Homo sapiens: one gene and its partners. The protein of the gene in region 3 purifies or fractionates together with the protein of the main gene of each other region. This does not show direct contact. Each region holds a gene or a part of one and is shown on either strand. Other genes may lie near its edges.

What was found.
Region 1: the proteins of DGCR8 (region 3) and RRP8 purify together in Homo sapiens (co-immunoprecipitation; 3 studies listed by BioGRID and IntAct, with this or other methods). This does not show direct contact.
Region 2: the proteins of DGCR8 (region 3) and NOP2 purify together in Homo sapiens (affinity purification with mass spectrometry; 2 studies listed by BioGRID and IntAct, with this or other methods). This does not show direct contact.

The regions. Positions count from the first base shown.
Region 1 is NC_000011.10:6,594,484-6,597,657, reverse strand, and holds the end of RRP8 (ribosomal RNA-processing protein 8), read left to right. Parts: 3' UTR 1-2,586; downstream 2,587-3,174.
Region 2 is NC_000012.12:6,561,746-6,565,396, reverse strand, and holds part of NOP2 (28S rRNA (cytosine(4447)-C(5))-methyltransferase), read left to right. Parts: intron 1-1,148; coding exon of another isoform or gene 1,149-1,247; intron 1,248-1,450; coding exon 1,451-1,506; intron 1,507-1,625; coding exon 1,626-1,783; intron 1,784-1,882; coding exon 1,883-2,082; intron 2,083-2,226; coding exon 2,227-2,316; intron 2,317-3,425; coding exon 3,426-3,513; intron 3,514-3,592; coding exon 3,593-3,651. UniProt on the Homo sapiens protein: S-adenosyl-L-methionine-dependent methyltransferase that specifically methylates the C(5) position of cytosine 4447 in 28S rRNA. Required for efficient rRNA processing and 60S ribosomal subunit biogenesis.
Region 3 is NC_000022.11:20,086,703-20,090,353, forward strand, and holds part of DGCR8 (microprocessor complex subunit DGCR8), read left to right. Parts: intron 1-459; coding exon 460-619; intron 620-2,966; coding exon 2,967-3,109; exon of another isoform or gene 3,110-3,141; intron 3,142-3,273; coding exon 3,274-3,556; intron 3,557-3,651.

The DNA of each region.
Region 1 (3,174 bases), on a different chromosome or scaffold from region 3:
CGGCCTCCCAAAGTGCTGGGATTACAGGCATGAGCCACTGTGCCCAGCCAGTGTTTTTTTTTTTTTTTTTTTTATGGGAGGATGGGCAGGTTGTTAGCTGTCGAGTGCTATTGAGATGAGAGAGAACTCAGAATGCAGTGGGGTAAGGATTGCTGAGTAATGTGGAGGGCCTGTTTGAGGTAAATGGCAGTGGTAAGAGGTTGCTCCATTATGAAAGCCCTCTTCCAGAGTTCCTGATAGGGCCCCAGAAGTTCATTTCTGATTGCTTTGATTTTTTTTCAGGGGAGCAGGAAGCCAGTTTATCATTTGAGAGTGAGAATAGGGGAGAGGAAATATCTTCCAGGCCCACAGTGCATAGAAATACCCAGTCAGGGCAAAATGATTTATCTGTTTACCTCTCCTCATCACTTGGGCCCAGAGCAATCAGCAGTGATTAGGTAGAGAGGAGCCGAGCAGAGGGAAGAGCATACCAATCACTCCTCCCTTTCCCAGTGCAGGCTCCTAGACTTAGCTGGGGCAGAGCTGGGAGAGGAAAAAGGGATTTAAAACTGCAACAGGTGCAGATTATTGTTACACAGGATTAGACATTCTAATTAATTGAGATTATGTTTGTTCCTTAAACTGATCACAGGACTATCTATTAAGAACATCACAACCTCGCTGCAGCTTTTCTCCATAGCAGGGAGAGTACCTCCCAGTGAATAAAATTTGGAGGGTGGTAAGAGACAAGAATAAAATTGGGTTTGGTTATCCGTGCCTCATGCTTGTTCAGCATCCCTTTGAGAGTTCTCCAAATAAATAGTTACTGCTTCTGCAGTTATTGGTGTGCTCCAGCTTCTGTTCCCATAATATAGTCCAGTCCTAAGGGAACACAGTTCTAAAAGAAACAACATGATCTTGGCAGAGACACCGCTCAGCTCCAAACCCAACCATTTATGTAACTGCACAAAACTCTCTACAGCTTTTCACAGAGACCAGTAATTAGAACCTTTCATCCCCTGGTCATCCTCCTTCCCAGGTGAATTCTCTGACCAGCCATCTGGTTTTAGGATACCCAACTCCTGCAGTAACTGCCTTACTGGTGGTCTAATTGCTTCTACTCGTGTCCCTAAAGCAATTAATTTTCCACACAGCCATGTGATCTTTTTAAAATGTAAATCAGCTTATGTCACTTCTCTGCTTAAAATCCTTCAATGGATTCTCACTGCCTCGAGAACAAAAGACAAACTTTTCAGGCCCCGTGTGATCTTGCCCAGGCCTCCGTCACCATCACCATCTGCATCTTAACCCACTCCTCCCCTTTCACAAAACTCCAGCCACACAGACTTGCTTTTTATTCCTCAAGCTTTCCAAACTGTTTCTACTGAGAGTCTTTGCACATGCTCCATCTTCCTTGAATACTCTTTCCCCAGTGAGCTCATTTTCATCTTCCTGAATTCATACCACTATTACCTTTGCTTCTGTGGAAGAAACTGGCCAGATGCTCACCCAAATGTCCTCTTTCTGGACACAGGTAAACTGCATTTCCCAGCTCCATGCATCTAGGCCTATGTGAGTAGTTCTCAACAGTGGAAAATGAGTGGAAGTGATGTTTCAATACTAGACCAAGGCAGTTAAAGGGTGGCTGAGCCATTTCCATTATTCTCTTCCTCCTTCCTCTTCAAGGTAACCTTGAAGCACATGTTTTGACGGTGATGGAGTCATAGCATAGAAGAAGTCTGAATACCTGAGTTACTATTTAGGGCATAATAGCTACTTGACCAAAAACATCCATATTGGACTTTGAACAAGAAAATAAACTTGATTACATTCTGCTAGTGAGTTTTGAGGGTGTTTTAGCAGTTATCATTATATACACTGGATATATCTTCTATGGTATCCTGTCCACCTTACTCTTGACCACAGTACCCTCTTTGTTTCCTTCAGGGTGTTTCAGATATTTAATTATCTTGCCAGATGCCAGTCAACACTTTCTTTTTGTCCCATGAGTTTAAAATCAGGGGAAAACATGTACTCCCAATAGGAAGTTGAGATACTCTTTTTTTTTTAAATCCGTCATTGTGACTGTGACCGGAAAAACAAATCCCACTAAAGAATGTCCTAAACAGATGTTTTTTTTTGTCATATAACCTGGAGTTAGGTGATTTGGCATTGGTTCTGGAGCTGAAGGATGTTAGGGATGAGGTCTCTGTAGTTTTCTTGTCTCATGGTCACGAAATGAAGTGTTATTGATTAAGCAGGGATGCCCTACTTAGTATTAGACTTCTTGGAAGTCTCCTTAATTGCCACAGCCCCTATCTTTTTGGCTTCGTTTCAAGGGTCCTTCTACATTGTTAATACTCTGGTATAAATACGTTCCATTATTCCCTATAACATGACTGAAACCAATCTAAAGTATTAACATTTTAAATATGTTTTTGGGCCAAGTGCAGTGGCTCTTATCTGTGATCCCAGCTACTAGGAAGGCTGAGGTGGGAGGATTGCTTGAGCCCAGGAATTTCAGGCTGTAGTGAGCTATGATTGTGCCACTGTACTCCGGCCTGGATAACTGAGATCCTGTCTCAATAAATAAATAAAACAATTATATATATGTATAATATATAATATTATATATACATATGTATGTATGATGCTTTTCATCCCCACCCTTTCCCACATCTCAGGAACCTGTCAGCAACTTATCCAGTTTAAAGCTGCTGTTCCTCTACCTCAGTGGTTTGGGAGAACATGGTCATTATTTCACTCATTCTTTACTTCCTGTCTCTTCTAGGATTGGAATGGGGGAGGGCATATTAAACGAAGAAAGTCTCAGCTTACGTGATTAAGGTACCATTGGTGTGTTCTGTGCAGACAGGCATTTAACTGTTGACTCCTTTGTGAGCTCTTGGGGTTCTCTGGAGCTCTCCATGAGGACTGGGGCACTAACTGACTTTGGTTGCCTCTTTTTGATGCACAGCCCACACTGCCCTTCAGCTCTTCAGCCCCTGACCCTGACAATGTACCCACAGCCTCCTCGTGCTAAAGTGCTTCACCCTTGTACGCAGCTCTCCTGGGAATGGTCCCAACAAACCCTCAAGACTGGTTACCTTTCATGGAACCCACAGGAAATGCATGCATATTTGTCCTGCCAAACTGGAAGTGCAGCCCAGCCAGCAGCTTGCTTTTCTCACCCTG
Region 2 (3,651 bases), on a different chromosome or scaffold from region 3:
TGCACTCCAGCCTGGGCAACAAAGTGAGACTCTGTCTCAAAAAAAAAAAAAGTTAAGTTAAAAAATGGTTTAAAAATTAGCTGGGTGTGGTGGCGTACGCCTGTAGTCCCAGCTTCTCAGGATGCTGAAGCGGGAAGATGACTGGAGCTTGGGAGGTTGAGGCTGCAGTGAGCTGTGATCTTACCACTGCACTCCAGCTTGGGTGACAGAGTGAGACTGTCTCAAAAAAAAAAAAAAAAAATAACTGCTTCCTTTTGACATAGTAATTCCCTATTAAGGAAGATGATCCAAAATGTCAGCAAATAGTTCTTTACTGAGGTGCAGGAAGTTATTATACAATTAGTGTGTGGATGTATTATTAGAATCGTATAGAATAAAAAGAGAAGGTCCCCATGTGCACCCCCTTCCTACATCCCCTTGTATCTACAGGGTCATTATTAGGTTTGCAGGCACCATGTGGATCATAATGCCAAAAACTCAGGAAACTTCCAAAATACACAATATGCTTAAGTAAGTTATGGTTCATGCATATGATGCAGTTACACTGGTCATTATGTCTATGAAAATGCCTGTGATGTAACTGAAGTCTAAAAAGCAAGAAACAAACTTGAAAATGGATTATGTGAAAAATACAGAGTAAGTAAAAAAAAAAAAAAAACGACAAAATGGGCCAGGCACGGTGGCTCACACCTGTAATCCCAGCACTTTGGGAGGCCGAGGTGGGCGGATCACCTGAGGTCAGGAGTTCAAAACCAGCTTGGCCATCATGGTGAAACCCCATCTCTGCTAAAAATACAAAAAATTAGCTGGGCATGGTGGTGCGCGCCTATAATCCCAGCTACTTGGGAGGCTGAGGCAGGAGAATCATTTGAACCTGGGAGGCGGAGGTTGCAGTGAGCCAAGACGCGCCATTGCACTCCAGCCTGGGGGACAAGAGCGAGACTTCTCTCAAAAAAAATATGGCAGAATGGTAGTCAAGGGCCATTTTTGTCCTTCTTTATACATCCAGGTATTTTTCAAGTTTTTTTTTTTTCTTAATGGAAAAGTGAAAAACATAATAGTAGAAAGAAAAATGTAATGAACCCTTTAATTTATTACTTAGGTTTTTTTTTTTTTTTTTTGAGATGAAGTCTTTCTCTGTTGCCCAGGCTGGAGTGCAGTGGCTCGGTCTTGGCTCACTGCAACCTCCACCTCCCGGGTTCAAGCAATTCTCCTGCCTCAGCTTCCCAAGTAGCTGGGATTTACAGGTGTGTGCCACCATGCCCTCATTACTTAGTTTCAACAGTGAGCAATGCTGCGCCCATCTTATTTTCATTTCTTTGCTCCTCTATTTCCTTCTGAGAGCAAGTGTTGGATTTTTATTTAGCGAAAAAATAAGATATAGAGATAGAACTGCTACAAGGGCTGATGGAAGGGCAGGCCTGTATTAATAGCCCTTGTCTCTCTTCAGTTGCTGCCCATTGAAAGAGCTGCTCGGAAGCAGAAGGCCCGGGAAGCTGCTGCTGGGTGAGTTTTGGAAGCTATTGGGATGGAGCATAGGAAGCCACTGGGGTGGGGAAGCTGTGAGGAAGGAGGAGGTATCTGTTTTGGTCTGTGAATCACTCTGTTCCTGGACCTGTTTCTAGGATCCAGTGGAGTGAAGAGGAGACCGAGGACGAGGAGGAAGAGAAAGAAGTGACCCCTGAGTCAGGCCCCCCAAAGGTGGAAGAGGCAGATGGGGGCCTGCAGATCAATGTGGATGAGGAACCATTTGTGCTGCCCCCTGCTGGGGAGATGGAGCAGGATATCCTTGCAGGGCAGAGTGAAGAGTTAGGAGGAAGGTGGTTGGGAGAGGGATTTCCAGGCCTTAGGACATCATGACACAGTTCCTTAACAGGCCCACATGCCCAGGCTCCAGACCTGCAACGAGTTCACAAGCGGATCCAGGATATTGTGGGAATTCTGCGTGATTTTGGGGCTCAGCGGGAGGAAGGGCGGTCTCGTTCTGAATACCTGAACCGGCTCAAGAAGGATCTGGCCATTTACTACTCCTATGGAGACTTCCTGCTTGGCAAGCTCATGGACCTCTTCCCTCTGTCTGAGGTACTGGATTGCCAGAATGCCTCTTTTGCTTTTCTTTTCTCGCCTCCTTACGCTGTGTAAGGAAGATGTTCGGCCCCCTTGCTCCCCTCTTCTGACTGAGCTCCTTAGCCAGCCTCACTTATTCCCTGCTGTCTTGCCCCGCAGCTGGTGGAGTTCTTAGAAGCTAATGAGGTGCCTCGGCCCGTCACCCTCCGGACCAATACCTTGAAAACCCGACGCCGAGACCTTGCACAGGTGAGGGGTGGCCTTTGAGGCTCACTCATCTCAGAAGGGAAGTGACTTCTGCCAACTCCAGAGATTCCTCTGTGCTACCCTGACTGGGTGGGGCCTTAGGACCTAAGCATGATCCTGGGGGGGCAAACCCAGAGGCCTGATGTCTCTGGCAGGATAGGATCTGGGGGCCTAGGACCTCTGTGGAATGGGAAGTTCATACTCTGCTCCCTGTGACTAGGATGATGAGACTTCAGGATGAGCGTGCTGCCCCCAAGGAAATTGGAGGGAGATCATTGAGGAGCTGGGGAAATATGATTCCTGACTGCACAAAAAAGACACATATGCACAGTCAATATTTTAAACTCATTTCCAAGGGTTCAGGGGCCCCAGGTTAAAGACCCCTGTTGTAAAGTCAGTTGTTGGGTTATATGTGTTGTATATTTCCTGGTGTGAAGAAAACCTAATAATGTAATGTGGTATAACCAATGTCATTAAATTTTTAGTATAGTGGAGGGGCTCAGCCTCTTAGAAAATCAGATGCCACTTCTAGGAAATAAAGTAACAGGAGGTGGCATCCTGCTCCATTGGGATGAAGTTCAGATCTTGAGTTAGGAGCCTGAGGTTAAGAAAAAAGGGCACCATAGGATGGAGTGGGAGAGAGAAACTGCTCAATGACTCCATGATGACTGTGTTTGGAGTAAGCACTATAGGAGTTGTGGGGTATGGGCCATGTTTTTATGAAGCATGTGTTTAATGTCTTCATCTGTCTTCTGGGTAGAGTAGCCTATGAGGTTATTAAAATCTTCATCCCTACCGGGCGCGGTGACTCAACGCCTGTAATCCCAGCACTTTGGGAGGCCGAGGCGGGCAGATCACCTGAGGTCAGGAGTTAGAGACCAGCCTGGCCAACATGGTGAAACCCCATCCTATGAAAAATACAAAAATTAGCCAGGCATGGTGGTACATGCCCGTTGTCCCAGCTACTCAGGAGGCTGAGGCACGAGAGAATCGCTTGAATCTGGGAGGTGGAGGTTGCTGTGAGCCGAGATTGCGCCACCTCACTCTAGCCTGGGCAACAGAGTGAGACTCCATCTCAAAAAAAAAAAAAAAAAATCTTCATCCCTTTTCAGGCTCTAATCAATCGTGGGGTTAACCTGGATCCCCTGGGCAAGTGGTCAAAGACTGGACTAGTGGTGTATGATTCTTCTGTGCCCATTGGTAAGTCTCCCCCACCCAAGAGCCCTTCTACCTCTGTCCCTGTCCCTACCGCATGTCACAGGGTGGTCCTTCTCCACAGGTGCTACCCCCGAGTACCTGGCTGGGCACTACATGCTGCAGGGAGCCTCCAGCATGTTG
Region 3 (3,651 bases):
TCTAGAGGGCTCTTAGCAAAACCCAAAGAGAGATTTGGGAATTGCAGCATCTTTTGAAAGCAGGGAAATTAAAAAAAAAAAAAACAAAAACCAAAATCCCCTCTGAGGTGGAATAATGTTAATGTGGAGAAGAGAAAGATGTAAGGAGTCCAGATTTTTAAAGTTTCCTAATGAAAAGTTTGGCCCATGGGTAGGCCCTGCATCCCTGATCTAGCGCGTGGGGCAGCAGGTGCTGCTGAGTTACGCTCCTTGGCAGTGTGTGCCCCTGGACCAGGTGTGTTGGTGTCAGCTGGTAGCTTCATCCTGTTTGTTTTTCAGATGATCATGCACCCTAAGGGCACATCTAGGCCCCCTGAGAGCACCTCCTTTCTGTGTCTGTTCTCAGGAATGCTGTTGAGCTCTCCTGTTGCAGGAGCATGAGCGCCAGGGGCTCTGGTGTCTGAACAGCGTGTTTTGCAGGATGACTTTGACAACGATGTGGATGCTCTGCTGGAAGAAGGCCTTTGTGCCCCCAAAAAGAGGCGAACAGAGGAAAAATATGGCGGAGACAGCGACCATCCGTCCGATGGAGAGACAAGTGTGCAGCCGATGATGACCAAGATTAAAACAGTGCTCAAAAGTACGTGTGTGGGTCAGAAGCAGTGGGTGTTCCAGGGCAGTGGAGGGGTGGTTGCTTCCTTAGCAGAAATGCTTTGAGAGAGCTCTGGTGCCAGGTAGTGGGCTGGGTGGAGGCATGTTTGAGGACAGGACAGAAATATCTGAGGAGGGAAACACAGGATGGGAGGACGTCCTGATGCATGACCCAGATGCGGATCCTGGTGTGTGCTATGGAAACCACAGAGCAGCAGGCACTGTGCAGAGGAATGGGAGGGGACTTCTGAGGGGGTCAGGAGGGGATGTTGGTATATGCCAGGAGCCAGCATGACCATCAGCTGGAGGGTGTGGAGACCAAGGGCAAGGTGGGTACACAGTGAGATGGCAGGTGATAGTTGTGATCCAGGTTCTAGTCCTGGACCAAGTGTCACAGGAAGCCACCAGAAGCAAGTGGTGTTACCTGATTTTTGTTTAACAACATGGCTTCTGGGCCACAGCATGGTGTGTGCACTTCAGCTGGGCAGGGTGGAAGTGCCCTGGTCGACGTGGCACTTCCTCAACTTTGAGTTGAGGGTAGTGGGGAGAGCACTTGAGAGGCGCCCAGAGTTGCACTGTGAGGCTCTGTCATCGATGTGGTGCAGGTGTTGGGGGAGTCGGAGTTGGTGGCTTGGAGGCACCTATGAGGGTCCTGGTGGAGATGTGGGGCTCGGTAGAGGGACTGAAGAGATGCACGGGGACTCAGGCTCACAGGTGAGACCCCAGGCTGAGGGCTGGGGTGCACAAGGTGGCAGGGTGCGACTGGGAGCAAAGCAAGGGGCGGGTGGCACATGGCCATCCTCCTTGGGCCATTGAGGGGACAAGTTAGCTATGCCAGGTGCCACATGTTGCTGCCTATGTCGTGTTGGTAGCAGTTAAGCAGGAGGGCTTTTGGTCTAGACGGTTGCAGGCAGGGTAAACCTGGGGCTTCAGCTTCTGGGGCTGGGGGCAGGAGTCTTGACCTCGGGGCCTCTAGGAGGCTGGTTTGGTGCTGCATTTTCAACAGGCTCATTCAGAAGGTAAACCCACATTCGTCCTGCACAGCTCACTGGTCAGCAGCCATTCTGGCCTGGATGCCTGGATGTTCACAGACGGACAGCTGCATGTGACCCCCACCTCAGGTGGCTGGGCCAACTTTGTGACCACTCACTGTCACAGAGGAGCAGCCCCAGCGGACCCGTGGCCCGTCTCTTGCTTGGCTCCGTATTCCCTTTGCTTCTTTTCCTGACTTAACCTAAAGCTGGCAGGAGGCAGCTCCATCTTGGCCTGACTCTGTGGGGAGAGAGCCCACGCAGTGTGCATGCACCCCTGACCTTTAACACTCCCTCCCTGAATCATCACCTGATGGTGGCCTGGGTACAGGTGTCAGGTCCAGGGTCAGGGCCACTTGGTGGGTACCTAGCCCTGAGAGTCACTGGCCCTTTTTCCCCTTATGTATATTTTTTAAGGTTTCATTTGCTTTCTTCTGTTTTTTAATTTTTTTTTTGAGGCGGGGTCTTGCTGTTACCCAGGTTGGAGTAGCTCACTACAGCCTCAGCCTCCCAGGCTCAAGTGATCCTCCCACCTCAGCTTCCCAAGTAGCCAGGACTATAGGTGTATGCCACCATGCCTGGATAATTTTAAAAAGTTTTTTGTAGAGTCAGGGTCTTGCTGTGTTGCCTAGGCTGGTCTTTCTAAGTTTTTAACTTGTTCCCAATACCTGTGAGAAAATTAAGTTTTAGTTACATCTTTGCCTTACGCTCTTCCCAGCAGTCAGGCCTGGTGGCAGGTGTCAAGTTGATAAGTCGTAAACCTCTTCCTCACAACTGCCTATAAAGCAAAGAAGGGGTTGGGAGTAGTGTATTAAACCAACTTAGAAACGGAATCATTTGAAGCAGTGTTTTGTATGCTGCTGAGAGTGCAGCTCAGTTACAATAAAGACTTGTCACCTGGTCACTGGGAGCAGTGGCTGACAGCCATGCAGTTTATTAGCAAAGCTCATCCAGCCCCAAGGCGCCTCTGGCCACAACCAGACAGGCAGCAAAGGAGTCCAGTGTCCACAGTGCTTACCAGATGTGGAGGCAGGAGCTGAGGCTGGGACTTATATCTTGCACAGACCTGTTCTGTGCTCCTTCATGTGCTGGTTTGACACGTGTAAATTCCCACCTCAGGCCACATGCTATCTGTCCTAGGCCTGGAGGCATAGCAGTGAGCAAGGCAGAGAGGAATTTCGATTATCTGTGAAGACCCAGTTAAACACATGCTAGTACCCAACAATTTCTTGTGCAGGAGGTGCTGTGGCAACAATTCCAAGTGTTTTTACAGTGATTATAGGATGTTCTTGTCTTCCTGTGCAGGTCGTGGCCGCCCACCTACAGAGCCGCTGCCCGACGGGTGGATCATGACATTCCATAACTCTGGAGTCCCGGTGTACCTACACAGAGAGTCTCGGGTGGTCACCTGGTCCAGGCCATACTTCTTGGGAACGGGAAGCATACGGGTAGGGGAGGCATCAGTCGTGACTTTAGGCTTGTAAGTTCTCAGACCAAAACGTGCACATCCACACACATGGCACCGCAGCCAAGCAGAGGCCGGTGAAAGGCATCAGAGTTTCAGACTCTCGGGTTGTCCTTGTAATCCATATTGCAATTTCACTATCCACAGAAACACGACCCTCCTCTGAGTAGCATCCCTTGTCTGCATTATAAGAAAATGAAGGACAACGAGGAACGGGAGCAAAGCAGTGACCTCACCCCTAGTGGGGATGTGTCCCCCGTCAAGCCCCTGAGCCGATCTGCAGAGCTGGAGTTTCCCCTGGATGAGCCTGACTCTATGGGTGCTGACCCGGGGCCCCCGGACGAGAAAGACCCACTAGGGGCTGAGGCAGCCCCTGGGGCCCTGGGGCAGGTGAAGGCCAAAGTCGAGGTGTGCAAAGATGAATCCGTTGGTGAGTTTTTGAAGGACTCTTCCCTTCTTGCCTCCTGGGACCCATGAGCTTTGTTTTTCTAATGAAGGCCATAATTGTTCATAGTTCCTAGTTGT